3 linked regions of the Homo sapiens genome follow. The protein of the gene in region 1 interacts with the protein of each later gene in a biochemical or structural test. Each region holds a gene or a part of one and is shown on either strand. Other genes may lie near its edges.

Region 1 (7,158 bases):
AAAAAATACAAAAACAAAATTAGCCAGGTGTAGTGGCAGGCACCTGTAGTCCCAGCTATTCAGGAGGCTGAGGCCGGAGAATGACGTGAACCTGGGAGGCAGAACTTGCAGTGAGCCGACATCACGCCACTGCACTCCAGCCTGGGCAACAGAGCGAGACTCCATCTCAAAAAAAAAAAAAAAAAAGCAAAAATTAGGCGGGCCATGGTGGCACTTGCCTATAATCTCTGCTACTCAGGAGGCTGAGGCAGGAGAATCACTTGAATCGGGGAGGCAGAGGTTGCACTGAGCTGAGATTGTGCCACTGCACTCTAGCCTCAATGACAGAGGGAGACCCTGTCTCCAAAAAAAAAAAAAAAGTATTTATATCAGTCTATAAGAAAAATACTAACAATCCAATAGAAATATGGATAGAGTATGGAAATAAGCAAATCCTAAAAAAAGAAAATAGATGCTTAATCTCATTAATAAATAGAAATACAAGTTAAAACAATATAATACACCTTGTTACTTCAAAAAACGATTTTTAAACTTACACTTTGATCTAGCAAATTCTACTTTTAGGAGTTTACCCTATGGATATGCTTGTACGAGCCTGCCAAGACATAGTAAATGGCAACGTCTCTATAAAATGGAATACCATGCTATCAGCCTATCCCTATTGATATGCAAAGATGTTCATGAAATATTATTTCATGAGAGAATAGAATGGATTGCTTGGTTTTATTTGTATTAAAAATCAATAAAGTAGATACATGTATAACAACATCTACATAGAAAATGAAGGATATGTTTTAAATTGTTAAATGGAAATCCATCTGGGAAGTGGGTTGGGAAGAGACAGATGTGGGGAACTGGCTGAGGCCTTTTACTTTTTACTTCATAATGTTCTATACCAAGGGTGTCCAATCTTTTGGCTTCCCTGGATCACATTGGAAGAAGAATTGTCCTGGGCCACACATAAAATACACTAACACTATCAATAGCTGATGAGCTTAAAAAAAAAAAAAAAAGAAAAGAAAAAACAAAACCTCAAAAAAAATCTCATAATGTTTTAAGAAAGTTTACAAATTTGTGTTGGGCTACATGTAGAGGACCGTGGGTTGGACAAGCTTGCTCTAGTGGGTTGTGAATTAAAATAATTACTTCTCAGATCTACTGTTTGTATCCTGTAGTGCTCAGAAGCTACAGACTGATTCATCTGTAAAGCTTCCTATAAAATAGTAACTATTCAACTTAGTTCTTATTAAAAAATTTTTTCTCTTTAAAATATTGTAAGTCCCGCCTTTTAAAAAAGGCTATATTCTCTCTAGCAAAGAGGGCAACCATACACACAAAAAAGTTTATTTTAATATTTCTTAAGCTGCCTTGTTGTTTTTATTAATATTATTTTTGTCAGTATTTCATCTCATATTTATTTATACTTCTGATAACTCTCAAAAACACATTCTTTCTACATTTTAGACTTTTTTCCAAAAAGGGGCATAAGAATTTTAAGAGTAATGAATAGAATCCCTGCTTTTATCTCCAGTATACTGAATTTTACCTTATATCCAACCTAAGTCTTATCAAAGCTCCTTACCAAATGCTTGGAAGAAGGTATTTTAGGATACAAATTTATTTTGCAGGTGATGAGTGTACTCCTAACATTAAAGGTCATAGTTAGATAAATGTCACAGAAAGCTCACACTACTGAGCTCAAACATTCATACATGAATTTTATCAAAATTCTACTAAAAGCTATCAGATTCTTGGTTTCCTATTGTTACCAAAGGTTGCTATACTTACAGCAAAAGCTGCTTTATGTTTCTGCCTGATTTACTTAATGCCTCTACCAAATAGTCTTAACTTTATGATTTTCTCTGGAACTGATACAGGAAGCAAGGAGCAGTGTTTTTTAATACTAATATGTGCTGCTTCAGAAGAAATCTCAAGTAATTTTAAAGTATGACAGCATCTTGCTAACAAATATTACTGTCCATGCATAAAAATCAAATGCAGAAAAAATATGCTAGGCTATTTAGAGGAATAGAAATCAAATAGAAAAATGAAACTTGTCCATTTAAAGTGAGATTATGCATTATACATGTGGAGAGCTAAAAGAGACCTAAAAATCATTGGCTCCAACTTACTTTATAGATTAGGAAGCTGTGAACAATAGAGGTAAGATGGCTCCCTTAAGGCCCCAAAGTTAGGTAATGGCTGTGCTAGGACTAGAACTGTGGTCTTCTACTTGCCAGTTGGCTTGTTACACCACTCCAGGATGTGTCTACCTGCATACACATGATTCTGCATAAATTTTTCCAAGCATCCAACCCTATGGTCCAGCAGTTCTACTCCTGGACATGTACCCAATATCCAGATGGGAGCTTATGTCCACCAAAAGACACATAACTAGATTATTCACAGCAGCATTGTTCTTAATAGCCACTGTCTATTGGAAGGAAGGAAGACAGGAAAGGAGGAAAGAAAACCCACATGTTAATCAGCAGTAGAATGGATAGATAAATTATAGTGTATTTACACAATAGAATATTACACAGCAATTTAAAAGAAAGAACTACTGACTCATGGAGCAATATGGATAAATCTCAAAAAGCATATTGTTGAGCAAAAGTAGCTAGACATAAGAAATTATGGAAAGCACTGTGTTATTTTTATGCCTGTTTGTAAGGTCCTTAAGGGCAGAGATCATTTCTCTGCATTTGTAGATCTTTAACACCAAGCACATTATTCAGCACATAATTGGTGCTCAGAGTCCAGGCACAGTGGCTCACGCCTGTAATCCCAGCACTTTGAAAGGCTGAGACAGGAGGATCGCTTGAGCTCAGAAGTTCGACACCAGCTAGATATCATAATGAGACCTCATTGCTACTAAAATTAGCTGGGTGTGGTGTTGCATACCTATAGTCCCAACTACTCAGGAGGTTGAGGCAAGAGGATTGCTTGAGCCCAGGAGTTCGAGGCTGCACTGAGCAATGAATGTGCCACTGCACTTCAGCCAGGGCAACAGAGTGAGACCTTTCCCCCCAGTCCCCCCAAAAATAGATGCTCAATGTGTATTTATTTTAATGGAGAATATATGATATGAAGAAAGACACAAAGGAAGCACCCAGTATTGTTCTGTTGAGAAAGCAGCAGGAAATATTGGGAACAATATTTTAATCCTCAGATGTTTATACCAGAGCACAGCATATGGAAACCTGAAATACTAACACAATGTTGAATATATAACTGACACTTGGCCAGCCAGGTATGATCATGATGAGACTATAGTAATTTTTCAGAACCTTTCAAAACAAGCACCACTAATGGAGTCTATTGTTTGACCCCAGAATTAATCTAAACATGATATCAACTAGATTTGATAGTTTCCTCTATTCATATTTTTTGCCTCAATGAGAAGAAAGTCTTCTCAACTCCCTCCTCTACTTCTTACTCACTGGGACAGGAGTGCTGAGTTGATCAGTCAGTTTCCAGCACACTGATTAGGTTTGCACTTTCAAAGATTTGTTTCTAGGTGTCTAAATAAGCTTATGGTGGAAGAAGACATTCTCTGGCTCCTTTTTCTCCAGCATTGCCAGGTGTGCTGGCCCTTCATTTCATGAGGATGTTGTGTTTGGGATGGAGGAGATGAAGTAGCTTTTCAATCTGCTTTGTTTCCAGGCTCCTTACACCCAACCTGTGCAGGAAAGAGGACCCTACCCCTCCATGGTTCACTGCAGTTTATTAGAGCTCTACAGTGAGGTTCAGGCCACTCCCACTATAATATAAAGCATTACTTTGCTTCATTTGGGCTTTTTATTCTCAAGGTGGGATAGCTAGACCAAGAAAGGATTTGTAAATTCTGGATCTCCTGGCCAATTGCCTTGAAAATGCTTGTAATAGGGCCACCCTCAACTAGAACCTCATTTTCATCCCTAAACACATATCGGAAGAAGTCTTTATGATCTTTCTCCCGCCATTGGTACTTCAGGCATTGACAGGTGTTATTCTGGCGTTACTGCCTATTATTTCTGAATGATTATCATGTGGAGAAACTTCTTAAAGTCTGAAGAAGAGATATGGTCATGTTTGATAAAGATTTATCTTACTAATTATAGATGAGACAAGCCACCTGAATTTGAGTCCCCAAGGAGCCTTAGGAACAAATTGTCAGTCAATTTGCAATCATCTGTAGAAGCAGTGACTGCTGAGCTCCAGTTAACATGGCTTTGTGAGGAAGCGGTTGTTCCAAAGCAAGTTCATTTCATAAAATATTGACTGAGAGAGTTTCCATTCTTCTAGTAGAGTGATCTTATCAACAGGATGAGAAGACATAGCCTGAACAATTTAAGTGGGAAAAATAGTACATGATATTATTTTATATAAAGACATTTGTGAAGTGCCCAATGTGTAATGCCGAGATGGAAAAATCACTGTTTTCCTTAATATTATATTTAAGTTACCTTTTAAAAGTTTATTATTTTGCATCTCAATTTTTTTTGAGAGGTTGAGCTATGTTTCCATTACTGTAATATCTGGGAAAGTTATATGCAGCTTATTGTCACTGAAGCTTTCCAGAAATGTTTTATTTTACCCTAGGGAAAACAAAAGGCTTGTGTTCTTTCCTTTCTTGCTGATAATATCAGTGGAGTGCACAGATTTTGACCCCTGGTACTCTTAATTTACACTGGGGCTTTTCAGATAGATGAAGTTAACTTGCCAATAGGACTTGAATTTCATGTCTTACCCTGTTATGATTTAAAGTACGTGCACATAGGATGATAGCTGATACAATGACATGACAAAAAACATATTAAGAGTTTCTGCCAGCTTTTTGTGAGGTTCTCCCAGAATACAGAAAGAAAGGCAGGAGGTAAATATACATGGAAGCACATGAGTTCATTTTGAATGGTTTTATTCTTTGTCTTCTTGCTCATTTTTACCAAACCCAGAAGTTGCCCCTTCATTGTTCAGTTGTGCTTTGAGCAAATACCCAACCATTATTGTGCAACAGGGTGTCACGAAAAGGGTGATAAATACACCATTTTGATTGCTCTTCTCGAAATTTCACAGTGAGCTGAAATAAATTTTCATTTGTTATTGGCAAGTTTTAAAATCAGACATTATGGAAATTCTTAAGAAAATTGTCTTTTACTCTTTCAGTCTTGCAATGGAATTGTTTATTCTTGATTTAATATCTACCTGTGATATAGATACAATGAAGTCCCAATATTGAGAGAAGAGATATCTCACATGGGAAAAACAGACACTGCATAGGCAAACTTTAAAGTAGTGACTTTAAATTTTGGATGAAATCATGTTGGAAATAAACCTCAGGGAATTCTTAGGAATTGTTTAACCTTCTTGTGTTGGTTTGTTGGTTGCTTTTGCAGTTTAACTCGGCTGCTAAGCAGCTGATAGAATGGGATAAGCCTCCTGTGCCAGGAGTTGATGCTGGAGAATGTTCCTCGGCAGCAGCCCAGAGCAGCACTGCCCCAAAGCACTCCGACACCAAGAAGAACACCAAAAAGCGGCACTCCTTCACTTCCCTCACTATGGCCAACAAGTCCTCCCAGGCATCCCAGAACCGCCACTCCATGGAGATCAGCCCCCCTGTCCTCATCAGCTCCAGCAACCCCACTGCTGCTGCACGGATCAGCGAGCTGTCTGGGCTCTCCTGCAGTGCCCCTTCTCAGGTAAATCCTCAAACAAGTGTTATATAAAAAGAGCTCACCCACAAAAGGATCAACTTACAAACATGTTTGCTCACTGGCTGACAAACATTGCTTATTTTGAACTTCTGAAGATAGTAACTTTTCTGGGAAGCAAAACCTGTCTTCATTTTGTAAGTGGAAAAATGGAGAAGGGAAAGCTAACTTGAGTGTATCAACCCAGAACTAACTACTCTGTCATTTTCAAAGGAAAGATCAGAACTTACAAGATGAGTTATATAATACTTACCAGTTTCACCAAGCAATCACTCAGCCTTACAGAACTTTCTCACAGTACTGCTTTGGGAGATCTTGCCAACTAAAACTTTATCTCCACCCAGATTTAAGATGCCATGGTCCAAACTCGTGACGTTTGTAGTTGCTTGTATCTATGTAACTTACCTTAATATGTAGGCTTCCCAGAATTATAGAGAAGAGAAAAAGAGCAAGGACAGAAAGAAGCATTTAATTTAAATTAGAAATTGACCTCACACTTTCTAAGTTCATTAGTTCATTACAACTTTGGACTGGTATGTAAAAAATAGCCACGCGTTATTCTTAGGTTTATAAAAATACATGGGATGACTGGGGCATTCATTCAATCATTCATTCATTCATTTGGCAGACATTTATTGAGCACTTTACTATTAGACCCTTCTAGGCACTGTGTATACCATGATATCTAAAATATAGCAATTTGCTGTGTTAGGCTTTAATTCTGCACTACAAAAAGAACCTAATTATAACCCTGCCCAAGCCACGGGGCTGCTATCATTATCCACTTAGGTGATGGCTGTATTTTGTTCAACTTAAAGGTCAAAGAATCTAGTTCAAAGCTGCCTGTCACAAGCAGAAGGAATTTCTTTCAAGTCTCATGTTTCATCTTGAAAATTCATGCAGATTTTACATTCTGCTCCACCATATAGCTATGGTGGTTTTTTTTTCTTTAAACATTAAAATGAAATTATGTCCCCTTAAAGAAAAAGAAAGAAATACCAGTCCTGGTCCTCAAAAAGTTTACATTCTAGTAAGTGCCTATTTTGGACCACAGAATGAAAATGTAAAATACAGTTTTTGATATCCCTTGCCATTTTTTTCTCAGCCTCATGTTTGTTTGTTTGTTTGTTTTTAATAGAGATGGGGTCTCACCTTGTTGCCCAGGCTGGTAACAAGCTCTTGGCCTCAAGTGAACATCCTACCTGGGCCTCCCAAAGTGGTGGGATTACAAGTATGAGCCACAGCCTCAGCCTCATTTATTTGACCCTGCTCCTTTAGATTTATACTGCGTGTTTCAAGTTAAATGCATTCACTTTCTGAATGGGATTGTGGGATTGTTGTTTTGTGGCATTTTTAGGTGGTAGGGCCATGAAACTCTTATTGAGAAATAAAGACACGCACAACGCACAACTAGAACATGAGTGCAGTGAAGGCAAGGGTCTTTGTTTTGTACACTGATTATATT
Region 2 (7,919 bases), on another chromosome or scaffold:
GCCACCGCCTCCCAGGTTCAAGCGATTCTCCTGCCTCAACCACCCCAGTAGCTGGGATTACAGGTGCCCGCCACCACGCCTGACTATTTTTTTTCTATTTTTAGTAGAGATGATGATTTTTCACTATGTTGGCCAGGCTGGTCTCGAACTCCTGGCCTGAGGTTATCTGCTTGCCTTGGTCTCCCAAAGTGCTGGGATTATAGGCATGAACCACCACTCCTGTCCCCAAATTTCTTTAAAAGGAGCTATCTCACCAGGCGATAACTCAAGAGAGAATCACAGAAATTAGATTGCCTTTTCCCTAGGGGAAGAAAATGCAAAATCACACTCCTAAACTTTCTTTCTTCTGAGTGGAAAGGGATAAGATATCTTAACGTCTTAAGGGGCCCTGAGGCTTGTCACTGCAGGTGAGGGGAAACCACACTACTGGCATATTTGATTTCTCAATGCAGCTGTCACCTCCTGCCTTGCTGCCTCCTTTAATGCCTATGTTGGTTTTACCTGGGCTTGCTCCACTGGTTAGCTTCTCCCTAGTTGCAAGACTACCAGATCATAATCAGTTATTATCTCCCATCCTGATGTGTGAAAAGCTACAGAATTTGTGGGACCCAGTGCAAAATGAAAATGCAAGGCTTCTGTTTAAAATTTATTAAGAATTTAAAGATAATAGCAGAGCATTAAACCAAGCATGGGGCCCCATCCACTACATGGGTCCCACACCCATGAAGCCAGCTTTGATGAAAAAAGGGTTAGGCCAGGTGGTGGCTCGCACCTGTAATCCCAGCACTTTGGGAGGCCGAGGCAGGTGGATCATTTGAAGCCAGGAGTTCGAGACCAGGCTGGCCAACATGGTGAAACCCTGTCTCTACTAAAAATACAAAAACTAGCTTGGCTTGGTGGTGGGCACCTGTAATCCCAGCTACTTGGGAGGCTGAGGCAGGATAATTGCTTGAACCTGGGAGGTGGAGTTGCAGTGAGCGGAGATCATGCCACTGCACTCCAGCCTGGGCAACAGAGCACGACTCCGTCTCAAAAAAGAAAAAAAGGTCAGAGCCTTCTCAGCCGACCAAAACCACTTGCAGAAAGCTGAGTGTGGGGACAATTTATTTCCAAAGCCCTCAACCTCTCATCTTAATATAAAGACAGCTGAGAAAGAAATCACCCTGTATTGTGTGTTATATTAAGATTGACTATTGTGGACTGAATTGAGTCCTCCAAAGAGATGCTGAAGCCCTAACCACCAGTACCTGTGAATGTGGCAGCATTGGGAAATAGGGCCTTTGCAGATGATGGAGTTAAGATGAGGTTATTAGTGTGGGTCCCAATCCATGATGACTGGTACTCTTATGGAAAAAAGAAATGTGGACACAGAGCCAGACATGCACACAGGGAAGATGATGTGAAGAGACCTACAAAAGGAGAACCCATGAGAAGATGAAGACAGGTTGGGGTGATGCTTCTATATGCCAAGGAACGTCAAAGAGTGCCAGCAGGCCGGGGGCGGTGGCTCACGCCTGTAATCCCAGCACTTTGGGAGGCCGAGGTGGACGGATCATGAAGTCAGGAGTTTGAGACCAGCCTGGTCAACATGGTGAAACCCCATCTCTACTAAAAATACAAAAATTAGCCAAGTGTGGTGGTGGGCGCCAGTAGTTCCAGCTACTCAGGAGGCTGAGGCAGGAGAATTGCTTGAACCTGGGAGGTAGAGGTTGCAGTGAGCCAAGATTGTGCCACTGCACTCTGGCCTGTGCATCAGAGCGAGACTCTGTCTCAAAAAAAAAAAAAAAAAAAAATCGGCCAGGCGCCGTGGCTCACGCCTGTAATCCCAGTATGTTGGGAGGCCGAGGCGGGTGGATCACAAAGTCAGGAGATCGAGACCATTCTGGCAAACGGTGAAACCCTGTCCTTACTTAAAAATACAAAAAATTAGCCAGGCGTGGTGGCGGGCACCTGTAGTCCCAGCTACTTGGGAGGCTGAGGCAGGAGAATGGTGTGAACCCGGGAGGCAGAGCTTGCAATGAGCCGAGATCATGCCACTGCACTCCAGCCCAGGCGACAGAGCGAGACTCCGTCTCAAAAAAAAAAAAAGTGCCAGCAAACCACCAGGATAGGAGAGGGGCCTGGAAGATTCTCCCCCGAGGCCTCAGAAGGAACCAACCCTGCCGACACCTTGATCTCAGACTTCCAGTTTCCAGAACCAAGACAATAAATTTCTGTTTCTTAAGCCAGGAGTTCCCAACCTTTTTGACACTAGGGACCAGTTTTGTGGAAGACAGTTTTTCCACAGGCCAGAGGTGGGGTGGGGGGGGCATTGTTTCAGGATGATTCGAGCACATTACATTTATTGTGCACTTTATTTCTATTATTATTACATTGTAATATATAATGAAATAATTATACTACTCACCATGGTGTAGAATCAGTGGGAGCCCTGAGCTTGTTTTCCTACAACTAGATGGTCTCATCTGTGGGTGATAGGAGACAGTGACACCCGAAGTATGGTGCTTATGTCAAGTCTACCCATTTTGGCTGCTGTCACTGCAGAAAACCCTGCTTCACAGAGATGGGATGTTGCAATAGGCCAGGCATGGAGGCTCACATCTGTACTGCTAGCACTTTTGGAGGCCAAGGCAGCTGGATCACTTGAGGCGAGGAGTTCAAGACCAGCCTGGCCAATATAGCACAACCCCATCTGTCTCTACTAAAAATAATAAAAATTATATATATAGCCAAGTGTGGTGGTGCACTCTTGTAATCCTAGCTACTTGGTAGGCGGAGGCATGAGGCACAAGAATGGCTTAAACCAGAGAGGCGGAGGTTGCAGTGAGCCGAGAACGTGCCATTGCACTTCAGCCTGGGCGACAGAGTGAGACCCTGTCTCAAAAAAAAAAAGGATGTTGGAAATGAAAGCAGGCTTTTCAGTGTTTTTGTGGCCATCTCAGGATTAAAGCCTAGACTTTAACCCAGAACGTGGAGATTTGAAGTTGTCTCAAACATACTGTTTTTTTGTTGTTGTTGTTGTTGTGTTTTTGTTTTTTTTTTTTTGAGACGGAGTCTCGCTCTGTTGCCCAGGCTGGAGTGCGATGGCACAATCTCGGCTCACTGCAACCTCCACCTCCCGGGTTCAAGCAACTTTCCTGCCTCAGCCTCCTGAGTAGCTGGGATTACAGGCACGTGCCACCATGCCCGGCTAATTTTTGTATTTTTTAGGAGAGACGGGGTTTCACCATGTTGGTCATGCTGGTCTGGAACTCCTGACCTTGTGATCCACCTGCCTCGGCCTCCCAGAATGTTGGGATTACAGGCGTGAGCCACCTCGCCCAGCCTCAAACATACTTTTAAGGCCACCAGATGCAGCTGTACAACTGAAGTACATACACTTGCCATTGTAAAGCCTGCCACCAGATGCAGCTTGTCACTTGCCACTCACTGATAGTGTTTTGATATGAGTCTGCAAGCAATTGATTTATGATGGCCTCTGTGCAGTGAAACCTCTCTGCTAATGTTAATCCGTATTTGCAGCCACTCTCAGCACTAGCATCAGCAACTCAGCTCCACCTCCCATCATCAGGCATTCGATTCTCGTAAGGAGCACAGCCTAGTTCCCTTGCGTGCACAGTTCACAATAGGGTTCGGCTCCTGTGAGGATCTAATGCCCCCTGATCTAACAGGAGGCTGAGCTCAGGTGGTAATGCAGCGATAGGGAGCAGCTGTAAATACAGATGAAGCTTCGCTGGTGGCTCACCTCCTGCGGTGCCGCCTGGTTCCTAATAGGCCAGGGACTCATAGTGGTCCGTGGCCCAGGGGGGTTGGGGACCCCGTCTTAAGCCATCCAGTTTGTGGCACTTTGTTATGGCAGCTGCAGCAGATGAATATACCCACCAACCAGACCAGGCTCCTCCTGTTACCTTCCTGACCTTGACAAGCTCCTGACAACACCTGAAAAAACAGATGTCCCAAGGGGGTTGGAACAAGGAGGGAGCCGGGGCAATGTCAGTTTTGTTTTTCAAGCCTTTTTTTTTTTTTTTTTTTTTCCTACAGAGGAGGAGGAGGGAACGCCTACAATAAAGAGGCCTTTATGGTCCCACTTCAGGAATCGGAGAACCCCGCCCTCCTCGTCTCAGCCCCAATTTAACGGGTGCATGTGTGAGTATCTTATAAAGTGACGCGTTTTGAGGGGGACTCCAGTGTGAGCAGGACTGTGGCTGACTTGTCAATCATCATTAGGGTGATGTCCCAAACGTTCAAGTCTGAGGCCCAGGGAAATTGGCAACAGCTGCCTGGATGCCTCCATCCTCCCAGCCCAAGGAAAATCTGGCCTTGCTCCTTCGTTGTCTTTCTTAGGAGCACGTGGAGTTCTCCTAGGTGGGCTTGCACTCGGGGTCGCCCAGCCGTTCTTTGAGGGTTCGAGTGGGTAGGCTTCCCCTGTAGGACGGGCTTCCCCGTAGGTTTCCACGTGGGGCCACAGAGGCAGGAAAAGGGGAAGTGGGCACTGACACCTGGGGTGAAAAAGGGTGGGGGTGCGGCTTTGTGAGGAAAGAATTTGCAGAGACTGCTAAACTGGGGTCTGCTAGGATACCCCACTCCCCACCCCCTGCCTCGGGCGCCCTCAGCCACCCGAGCTGGGGGCCTCGCAGGTCTCAGACCAAGCTCCCCGCGCGGCCTGCAGCGCACCCAAACATGGCCACCGAACCCGGGTTCCCGGGGCACAGCCGCGCCTCTGGGTGACGCAGACGCGGCGGGTTGCATCAGCCCGTGCCCACGTGCTCGGTCCGCCCTCTGCCACCCGGATCCGGACGCCGATTGGGCCACGTTGGGAGAGTGCCTCCGCCTCAGCCAATGGGCGGCAGCCACAGAGCGTTCTGTCCGCAGAGCCGGGCGCGGGGCTTCTATAAAAGGCGCCCGAAGCGGGGGCGCGCGCCCCAGAGACGTGAACTGTCGTTGCAGAGATTGCGGGCGGCTGAGACGCCGCCTGCCTGGCACCTAGGAGCGCAGCGGAGCCCCGACACCGCCGCCGCCGCCATGGAGTCCGAGACCGAACCCGAGCCCGTCACGCTCCTGGTGAAGAGCCCCAACCAGCGCCACCGCGACTTGGAGCTGAGTGGCGACCGCGGCTGGAGTGTGGGCCACCTCAAGGCCCACCTGAGCCGCGTCTACCCCGAGCGTCCGGTGAGAGCGGCCCCGACTTCCCGCCCCTAGGCTGTGGCCCCCCGCCCTCTGCTGGGGATGCCACGTCCGGCTGCCCTGTCCTGTGGCCTCCTCCCGCTGACGGCTGCGATCGCTCGGCCGGTCACCTCCCCCAGGGCTGTGGTCTCCCCTTCCCTGCCCCGCCGACGCGGGCGCCCCTCTGTTGCCCAGTAGCCGTCAGTAATCAGCAGCCTGACCTTGGGCGAGTCATTTCACCCTCCAAGCCTGTTTCTCCCCCAGCGGCCAGGCAACTCGGTGTTCCTAATTGGGCTTGCATCCAATGGCTAGAAGTAAGAAAACATCCGTGCTGCAAAATGAGGTTTCTGAACGCAGCCTCTCTGCAGGGAGAGGAGCGGGCAGGTGCCACCCGGGGCCGTGGCTTGAGAAACCTGGGGACCGCCCAGACACTGTGGACGGAAGGCCCCACACCCAGAAGCAGGACGTGGCTCTTCTCCTCCCTGGCCACCTTCCGCCGTGCCCCTCCCTGTCGCACTGGACCGAGCAGCCATTGCCGAGTCCCGGGGTGGAGCCCCGTGCACTTTCTGACCAAGAGCGACTGAGAAGGGAAGCAGGCAGGAGTCGCCTTCAGTCTGGTTTTAGGACGGCAGCCTCTCCATTATTAGCAAGACTTCCTTGCTTTGTTTTGGTTGACACATCTGTCAACATCACCCTTAGCACCGCCTGCCCTGGCCACCACGTGATGAGGCTGTAAGCTGGCCCTTCCTGTATTTACTTTCTGCTCTGATATTATGTAAGTGTCAGCAGTGTTCTTCACTGCCCACGAGCATAATTCTTCATCACACAGGAGAGGGCATCCGGGCAGGAAAAGATAGTGAAGTCGTGAGTTCCAGCTTGTGGTAGCGCCTGTGTCTGTTTTTGTTTCATATGGTCAAGAATGTTTTAGAAGTGAGTTTTCCTTCTGAGTTGTTATTTTGAAATTTGCATATTTATTTAGTAAGCTTGCATTCCATGTCCTCTAGAATTCACCCTGGCACATTTTTCAGTTTCACCATAGCTGCTTCCAAGAAACTGGGTGGCTGTGTTGCCATGAGAATGACTATTGGGTACACAAATTGGTGAAGCAGGTGTAGCCTATGGTTGCATCATATGGCAAAAGGCAGGATTTTGGCGGAGGATTTTTAAGGTCTTCCTTTGATGAGGAATGCCGCTCCCATCTGTTCAGTCTGAAGACCTAACATTGTAAACAAATACCTCTCAGGTATACAAATTTGTGTCTAAAAATTATTATGGCTGAAACATACTTATCATTTGTTTTCTGTAGTAGAAAATGGCATAATATGAGAAGGCCTACTTTGTAATAGTTGTTTGCTTTACTTAATATTTTTCAAATCAGCCATCTGTGTGAAGACTCAATATCAAGTTAGGCCTTTAAAAGGGGGAAAATAATTCAAAACCACTGGCAGCTGTGGTTTTCCGGCCTTTTCTATTGGTTGAACTCTGTAATAAATGCAGGACCCTACATATACAAAAGGTACTGTTTTCCAAATTCACGTATGTATTAGCATTTACCTTTAAAGTTCTCATCCGTCAGAAAAACGGTGAACACAGCATTCAGTATATTTATTTTGGTTTAGTTACACAGTGTCAAAAAGTTCTGATGTATATGGATAAGTAGATGCACTTTTTGCTGTTTTGTTTGTTTAAACAGCTTGCTTTAATTATCTCAAGCTACTTGGCAGGAACACCTTTATTCCAGGTTTCGCATAATCAGTTATTCTGGCAAGAGTAGATTAACACGTTAGTGATCTCCAATAGACAGATTATATGTTAATATTATTTGAGGCCATTATTTTTAAGTACAATTTAGACGGAGTTTCAAATAGATTTTAAAAATGAGATTTGTATAAAAGAGTGTGCAGTCCCTATGGTGTTAAAATCACTGATATGGAGGAGAAGAGGGGTTGGAATTGTGACACTGTGGCAGCAGATGACCTTGGACAAGTCAGTTTTTCAGACTTTCCTCCCTTAAAATAGGGATACTAAATCTCACAGGGTGGTTGTGTATAATGTCACCCACACGCCATCTCCTCTATAACTGCATTTGTATGCCAGGAAATTGTCTGTGAAGGCTTCAGTTTAGAATAGCTTCATATTATTTTGGGGCACTGCTGGGTGATTTTGGTTAAGGCTGGCCTTGGGAGTTCTCTGAGTTTTCTCTGAAACCAAACTCAATTTGGTTGTAGGTTCCCTGTTTGCTGTTTGTTGCTTTTAGTAATAGGAGTCAGTCAGTTTACCTGGGAGTTAAGTTTGGACTGGAGATAATTTGCCATTCTTTTTTTTTTTTTTTTTTTTTTTTTTTGAGATAGGGTCTCACTCTGTCGCCCAGGCTGGAGTGCAGTGACATGATCTTGGCTCACTGCAACCTCTGCCTCCCTGGTTCAAGCGATTCCCCTGCCTCAGCCTCCTGAGTAGTTTGGGTTACAGGCACAAGCCACCACGCCCAGCTAATTTTTGCATTTTTAGTAGAGATGGGGTTTCACCATGTTGGCCAGGCTGGTCTCGAACCCCTGACCTCAGGTGATCTGCCCGCCTTGGCCTCCCACAGTGCTTGGATTACAGGCATGAGCCACCATGCCCAGCCGATAATTTGCCATTCTGTATTTATTTGCGTGTTAGAGACCAGTTAAAGTTAAGACACTTTCTAAATAGAAGTCTTGTATATGGGGCTTTTGAGAAAGTGTTTTCCCGTGATGCTGGGGGGAAACACACAT
Region 3 (7,685 bases), on another chromosome or scaffold:
GCACCTGGCCCCTCTGTTGTGTGAATGGGAATGTGCTGCCTTCCTCTAAATCAGACAAGCACCTGGAAAGGCTTTTTGTTTATCTGAATGACTCCTGTTGGAATATTAGTCATGAATAGGATAATATGTTTCAAATGTTCCAAACTTCTTTAAGAGAAAGAGAAAACCGTCTGTTGACTCTGGTCTTCACTCAGGTCCAGCGGCGGGATGCTCCAGGTCCAGTCTGAGGAGTAAATGCTGGGCGTGTAACCTCATCAGTGTTGGGAACCTGGTGAGGCTACACAGCACAGAGGGGCCGGACTGCATCAGGGAAAGAGGAGTTGGGCTGTCTTCTCATTGTCACACACAATCCCACCATGGAGGACTCAGGCTGTCTCATGGCTACAGAGGTAGTGAAGCAGTTGCCAGGCGCCACAGCAGGAACGGAATTTCTCCGTGAAGACAGTGGTAAGGCGGAAGGACTGAGAGTGCATCCCGCTGGGGTACTGGAAGGTGTAGGATTCCATCAGGGCAAACGCTATCATTTGTGCTTTAAGACTAGGATTTGTGGAACAGGGAGAATGCATCCCCTGCCCTCCCTGTTGCTTAGCAACAGTCCTCTTTCTCATTCCCAGCAGGTCCAAAAGGGCCCAGTTTTGAAGATTGGGGGCAAGGAGTGGGGGATGAAGGTAAGATAACTCCCTGGTCTGCATAATAATGAGACATTCTGGCTCCATTGTGCAAAAGGTACCTGCCTTGCAAATGAATGAAGTAGTTAAAAAACACTTCTCCCTGTTTGGGGTTTATTCTGTGAGGATGAATGCTTACCTGGGGGAGACACATGTTTCTCTGTATGTGTTTGTATTTCCACAGCTGTCTGCTGGATCACAAGAGTCAAAGACACGCCTTCAGCCCACACAGGTGGGGAGGCTCAGAATGCCTGCCCCCTAGGGCCTCCACGCTGGACATTGGGTCAGGGAAGCCCCCTTTCCTGAGTTGTTCTGTGGGACTCCAAAGGGCCTCCTGCCAAGCTCTCTGACAGTTCACATCCCATCTGAAGAGCCTCATGCACCAGTCCAGGGCCTCTGAGAAGCAGATGCCAAGAGGGGATTAAAAATGCCAAGATTTTGTTGGAGGAGATGCCCAGGTGAGGAAAGTCAGAGGGAGGCTGTCTGAGGAGTTTTCAGACCAGGACTCAGGGCAGACCCTGAGGGGAGGAGGGAGAGCAGGTTGGGAGGATGCATCCTAGACTGCCATGGAGTCTAAGGAAGATTCCACGGCCGTGCAAGAGTGCTCCAGCCAAAGGCACCCTTGGAGGAGCCCACCTCTCCCGGGGACTGCCTCCCTTCATGTCCTCCTGTGCTCAGTCCCTTCAGAGTGCAGCCCCTTTGGCCTTGGACACTTCCTCTCCCTGCGTTTCGTTGGGCTGCAGGGCGTGTTCTCCTGGCCTCCACACCCAGGCCTGCTCAGGGGTAGGGTTGGGTGAACCTGAGGCTTGGGAATATCCCACTGGGGGGATTGGGAGGCCTGCAAAGGTAGGTAGAGGGCCACGCAGTGAGGGGTGCAGAAGGGAGGGCCTGTGGACAGAGGGGGTGAACCCAAGGACGGCAAGCAGCAGCAGGGACAGGCGTGACCACAGGAGGCCACCTGTGAAGGGAGAAGGCCAGATTTAGCAGGAGCGTGGACTCCCCGCCTGTTGCTCTTTCCCCCACCATGTTGTAGCTCCTTAGTGTGGGTCTCCTCCCACCTCACTTCGCATGGGAACCCTTCTGCAAGTGGCTTCACTTACACCTGTGTCTTGTTCTGTCTGGGCTGCTGTAACAAAATATCTGAGGCTGGGTAATTTATAAACCACAGAGAGTTATGGAGGCTGGAAGTCCAAGACCAAGGCACAGGCAGGTTTGATGTCTGCTGAGGCCTTGACCACTGCATCACATGGTGGAAGGCAGACGGGCAGAAAGAGGACAAACACTGTGTCCTCACAGCAGAAGAGAATGAACCTCCTCCCTCGAGCCCTTTGATAAGGGCCCTAACCCCATCTGGAAGGGCTCTACCTGATGACTTAATCACCTCCTAAAGGCCCTGCCTCTTAAAACTATCTCATGGGGATTATGTTTCAATATATAAATTTTGTGAGACACATTCAGACCATAGCAACCTACTATGTTCTTTTTCCTTATCTGTAATGACTGGTTATGCTTATAAATGTTTGAAAGCAAAAGTGCCTTTTCCGTGAAATTTTGCATCTGTTTCCATTTTATCCCTTCTCTGAGCATCATGGAGACTCAGCTGTCCTGCCCCGGGGACTGGTGTCAGGAACCTGGTGTATGGTCTCCAAGCTACGCTGCTGCTCTGATGCTTCTCATCTCTTTGACTCTTGAGCTGAGGTTGATCCCTCCTACAATCTTGTGTGGTGTTGAGTGGAGGAGGGGACAGGCAGTGAAGGGGCATGTGGCCAGCCCACAGTCACCCACTCTTGCTTCTTGCGAACCCAATCAATGCTTCAAGTGATTACCAGCTGTGAAGTGTGAGGAACAGTGGGAAGAGAGCAACTCAGGAGGGGTGTGGGGTAAGGACTCCTCTCCCTCAGTCTCCTAGTGGGAGATGGCCCTAGGGGGTGGGCTGAGGAGGAAGACAGAAGGCTGACACTCGGAGTAGGTTGGATTTCAACCCTGTTCATTCAATGACAAGTGTATTACATATGCTATCTCTTGAGCTTCCCACTGTAGACTTCTGAGGTGAGAAGCTAGGTAACTTGCAGTTGGTAGAGCAGGGTCTCAACCCCACCACTGAAGTGCAAAGTCTGTGATGTAAAGTTCTGCATTGCCCCGGGACCAGGGTGGCTGGTGAATGGCCAAGAGAAAGTCAGGTCAGCCTGACCTTCTAGGGCAGGAGTCCCCACACCTGGTCTGTGGCCTGCTAGGAACCAGGCTGCACAGAAGGAGGTGAGTGGTAGGTGAGCAAAGCTTCATTTGTATTTTGACCACTCCCTATGGCTCACATTACTGCCTGAGCTCCGCTTCCTGTCAGATCAGCAGCGGCATTACATTCTCACAGGATCCTGAACCCTTTTGTGAACTGCGCATTCGAGGGATCTAGGCTGTGCGCTCCTTATGAGAATCTAACGCCTGATGATCTGTCACTGTCTCCCATCACCCCCAGATGGGACTGTCTAGTTGCAAGAAAACAAGCTCAGGGCTCCCACTGATTCGACATTATGGTGGTGTTGTATAATTATTTCATTATATATTAGAATATAATACATAATATATATTATATGATATATTAGAATATAATACGTAATATATGTTATATAATATTTAGAATATAATATGTAATATATGTTATATAATATTTAGAATATAATACGTAATATATGTTATATAATATATTAGAATATAATACGTAATATATGTTATATAATATATTAGAATATAATACGTAATATATGTTATATAATATATTAGAATATAATACGTAATATATGTTATATAATATATTAGAATATAATACGTAATATATATTATATAACATATTAGAATATAATACGTAATATATGTTATATAATATATTAGAATATAATACATAATATATATTATATTATATATTAGAATATAATACAGAATATATATTATATATTAGAATATAATACATAATATATATTATATATTAGAATATAATACAGAATATATATTATATATTAGAATATAATACAGAATATATGTTATATAATATATTAGAATATAATACAGAATATATGTTATATAATATATTAGAATATAATACAGAATATATGTTATAGAGTATATTAGAATATAATACATAATATATGTTATATAATATATTAGAATATAATACATAATATATATTATATTATATATTAGAATATAATACATAATGAAATAAGGAATATAATAGAATATTATTTCATAGAATAGAATAGAATATTATTTCCTTCTATAATAGAATAGAATATTTCATTATTTCATCCCATATTCATTATTTCATTCTATAATATTATAGAATAGAATAGAATATTATATAATGTAATAGAATATTATTTCATTATATATTAGAATATAATATATAATGAAATAAGGAATATAATAGAATATAATAGAAGTAAAGTAATTATTATAAGTAAACACAGTAGAAACAAAGTTCACAATAAATGTCATGTGTTTGAATCATCTCGAAACCATCCTCCCCCACCACCTCCCTGGTCCATGGAAAAAATGTCTCCCATGAAACTGGTCCCTGGTGCCAAAAAGGTTGGGGACTGCTGTTCTAGGGCCACTGAGTGATTCACAGGACAGGAGACATTTGTGAGGGGCTCCTTGGGGACCCCTACTTCCCTGCCCTGTAACATCCAGCCTCATGTGCGCACGTGTTCAACTTCATGCCTTTGACTTAGACACATCGACATGAGCATACCGGCCTTCTGGTTCCAAGCCAGGGTTCCATAAACAAATCCTTCTTAGTTAGCCTTGGTAGCTCAACACCTTTGGTATCTCACTCACTTAACTGCCACGCCTACTCTTGTTGGATCCGGTTATAAAGTAAACTATGTTCTTTGAGAACTGTTGCATACAGATGAGTTGGCAGCCGGTCTGAGCTGGCCCACAGACTCATAAAATCAACAGGGCCTCGGGTACCCTCACCTAGCATATCCAAACTCTTGCATCAAAGGTGCAGGGACTTGCTCACATCGAGAATCTGGTTGCTTTCTTGGAGACCAAGAAAATGAGTTTTTGTTTCTACATTTACTCCAGCAATCCATGAGGTAAGAGGAGAAACACCTCATTGTCTCTTTGTAGGAAAAAGAAGTTAATTCTTGTGAAAATTTAGACCTCTTTTCCCCGCCTCAAATCTAGGCAGACTTGTCTGTCCACTCCTGGGGGATAGATAGAAGCATGGTTTTAACTCACTCACTGGATGCTTTTGGTGTGCTGGTTACATGTGGATTATTAGCTGTGTGCTGCATCTTGCCTTCCCTGGGTCACTCCGCAGCCCTGGGGCTGGAGGGCAGTAAGAATCTTTGGTTGCATCATGCCTGATTCCAAAGTCTTCTTTTGGTGGCAGAGATGTATGTAGGGTTTTCATCTCTGGTGGCATCCTTTCAATTGTAGCAAGACCTTGCCTAGTAACACAACCTCTGCCAAGCCGTTTCCATCTTTAAGGTAGAGGATCAAGGTGCTAGTGGGGTCTATTATGGAAAACATATATCAGGAAAAGGCAAGAGTTAGCCAGACATTTTGATTACCTTCACCCAAATGTCTTTCTTTCATTTTCTGATGTAGGACTTTATAGGAATTTTGCACCATTCTGAATGGATACATTTGGATTTCTCAACATTTGTTCAGCTTCCTAATGACTGTTGTGACAATTGCTCTATACCAGTGAATGCCAACTGTTTATCTCTGCTCTGAACAGGTATGGAGCCCCTTCTCCCAATATCTGTATCTTACAGATTTGGTGCATAGACGCTTAAAAGGAGTTGGTCTTTCGCAACCAGCAATCTTTAGGAAAAATGATTGAATTTTTCTCCTTTTAGCTGGGCTTACAAAATGGAGCAAAACATAGTGATTGTGCTATGGACCTTTTATGGACAGGGACTTGGCAGAGCCACTCACTGGATGCTTTTGATCTGCTGGTTGTACCTGGATTATTAGTTGCGAGCTGCACGCTGCCTTCCCTGGGCCATTCCGTAGCCCTGGGGCTGGAGGGCAGTTAGAATCTTTGGTTGAATCTTCGGTTACATTGGAGGAGCTGCCCAGTCTTTGTGGGCTCCCTTCAGTCATGGGCTTGGCTTGTGTTGTCTTACTCTACACTGTTTAGTGTAAATGGATTCTCACTAAGTCAGCTTCAGCTTTTAAGAGCATGATGGGGTGGAGATATCTGGGAACGTATGGGCCATCAGAAAAGCATTTTTTTATACTCAAGTCATGAAGGTGGATTTCTTCTGTGTAAGGAGGTGCACCAAGTCAGTGTAGGTGCAAGACTGCCCTTGTAAAGAAGCAGAGTATGTGAATTCCTTGTGAGTGGGTCTTAATCTTTAATGCTTTAATGACTTTTGGTTTGCCTGATTTTTTTTAATATAAGAAGTTTGTAATTGCCAAGCATGCTTTTCTGTGAAGAGCTAAGTCTCAAAATTCCCCATTCACGTTCTTTTCCTTTCCTCAGTAATGTGTTTTTCTGTGCTAGGTTATGAGTCTACCCTGCACCTTGTCACAGCTCAGTGATTGTCCAGGGATTCAGCTGTGACTCACATGCTTTGCCTTTTACTTGCTCCAGGGTTTCCATGCATTGAAGGCTTCCTGGTGCCCTCTCAGTGGAATTGCTTCTGGCCTGGCAGTTTGATCCTGAGGGTGACCCAAATGTTTCTCCCCTTGGCTCCATAATTTAAGATGCCAGTGATGACTATTGTCTTTCTTCTCTTCATTCTTGTCTTTCTCATGACTATTATTATTATACATACAGGTTTTTTTCTTCATTTGCCTTTCAACAAGCTTGTAATTAGAACTCATTGTGTTTTGGATGCTAGGTCCTGGGAAACCACTGAATGGCTTGGGAAATGCTTTGCTCTAGAGGGCAGGTACTTGGGCTAGGGGCTATGTGCATGGAAACAGGCTCTCACACGCTAATGGGAGAGATACCTGATGAGTGGGGACTGTGACACAGAAATGTAGCTCATAGTATCATCGCTGCCTGCACAGAAAAGTACATCATACTTTTCCTACAGAGGACCTCATGGAAGCATGATCCTAAATGCGCTGGGTGGGCAGGAAGGGGCCTACTGGAGGCAGGGGGAAGAACATTCTAGAACAAGGAAATGGCATTTACAAAAATATGCAAGAATGAGAGAGAGCATGACTTACACAGGGAATACCAGGCTGGTGTGGCTGAGGGTGGGTGGCCAGGGGAGGGGTGAGGGAAGCTGCAGGGTGCCACGATGAAGGACCTAGTATGTGATGCTGAGGAACTTGGGCAGTGTCCGGAAGGTGGTGAGAACCGGGGTAAGATCTTATTTACATTGTGGAAGAGTTGCTCTGCCTGCACAGTGCAAGGTGGACTAGAGTAGGGTAAGACCACGGCCGGGTAATCAGGGAGGAGATTACCAAGAGGGAGAAGACACAAAGTCTGGTGGCCAATCAGCTGCAGAGAGTGATGGGGACAGGCGAGGATGAAGTGGAGCTCTGAAACAGGAGCCAGAGACTCCCAAAGTCCGCAAAAAGAGCACACTTTGAATGGCACAGACCCTTTTCCTTCCACTCACCCTCCCACATTCAAGACTGTGATGACCTAGGCTCAAGCCAAAAGTATACAGAAAAGGGCCTAGGCTTTCCCAATCTGCTCTTTCTCCTGAAATATATATGGTTCAGGAATAGTATTAGTACTGCTGTGAAATAGCAAAAAGTGGTTGGCTCGATTATGTGGTTCAGAAATCATCATGAACAAGCAGGGTGTGCAGAAATTGGAAAAAGAAAACAACAAAAACAAACATCTTCAAAAAATGCTGAAGAAAAAAATTAGTGTAGAGACATATAAAAGATAGACCCCTAGAAAAGTCAACAATAGGCCTGGTGCAGTGGCTTACACCTGTAATCCCAGCACTTTTGGTGGCTGAGGCTCATCTGAGGTCAAGATTTCAAGACCAGCCTGGCCAACATGGAAAAACCTCATCTGTCTAAAAATTTGAAAATTAG

The links.
Region 2: the proteins of SH3RF1 (region 1) and HERPUD1 form a complex in vitro, tested with the Homo sapiens proteins (one study listed by BioGRID).
Region 3: the proteins of SH3RF1 (region 1) and KCNJ1 form a complex in vitro, tested with the Homo sapiens proteins (one study listed by BioGRID).

Annotation. Positions count from the first base shown.
Region 1 is NC_000004.12:169,134,841-169,141,998, reverse strand, and holds part of SH3RF1 (E3 ubiquitin-protein ligase SH3RF1), read left to right. Parts: intron 1-5,378; coding exon 5,379-5,681; intron 5,682-7,158. UniProt on the Homo sapiens protein: Has E3 ubiquitin-protein ligase activity. In the absence of an external substrate, it can catalyze self-ubiquitination. Stimulates ubiquitination of potassium channel KCNJ1, enhancing it's dynamin-dependent and clathrin-independent endocytosis.
Region 2 is NC_000016.10:56,927,223-56,935,141, forward strand, and holds the start of HERPUD1 (homocysteine-responsive endoplasmic reticulum-resident ubiquitin-like domain member 1 protein), read left to right. Parts: upstream 1-4,919; 5' UTR 4,920-5,022; coding exon 5,023-5,169; exon of another isoform or gene 5,170-6,072; coding exon of another isoform or gene 6,073-6,093; intron 6,094-7,919. UniProt on the Homo sapiens protein: Component of the endoplasmic reticulum quality control (ERQC) system also called ER-associated degradation (ERAD) involved in ubiquitin-dependent degradation of misfolded endoplasmic reticulum proteins.
Region 3 is NC_000011.10:128,864,250-128,871,934, reverse strand, and holds the start of KCNJ1 (ATP-sensitive inward rectifier potassium channel 1), read left to right. Parts: upstream 1-4,638; 5' UTR 4,639-4,762; exon of another isoform or gene 4,763-5,185; intron 5,186-5,279; exon of another isoform or gene 5,280-5,382; coding exon of another isoform or gene 5,383-5,412; intron 5,413-7,685. UniProt on the Homo sapiens protein: Inward rectifier potassium channels are characterized by a greater tendency to allow potassium to flow into the cell rather than out of it.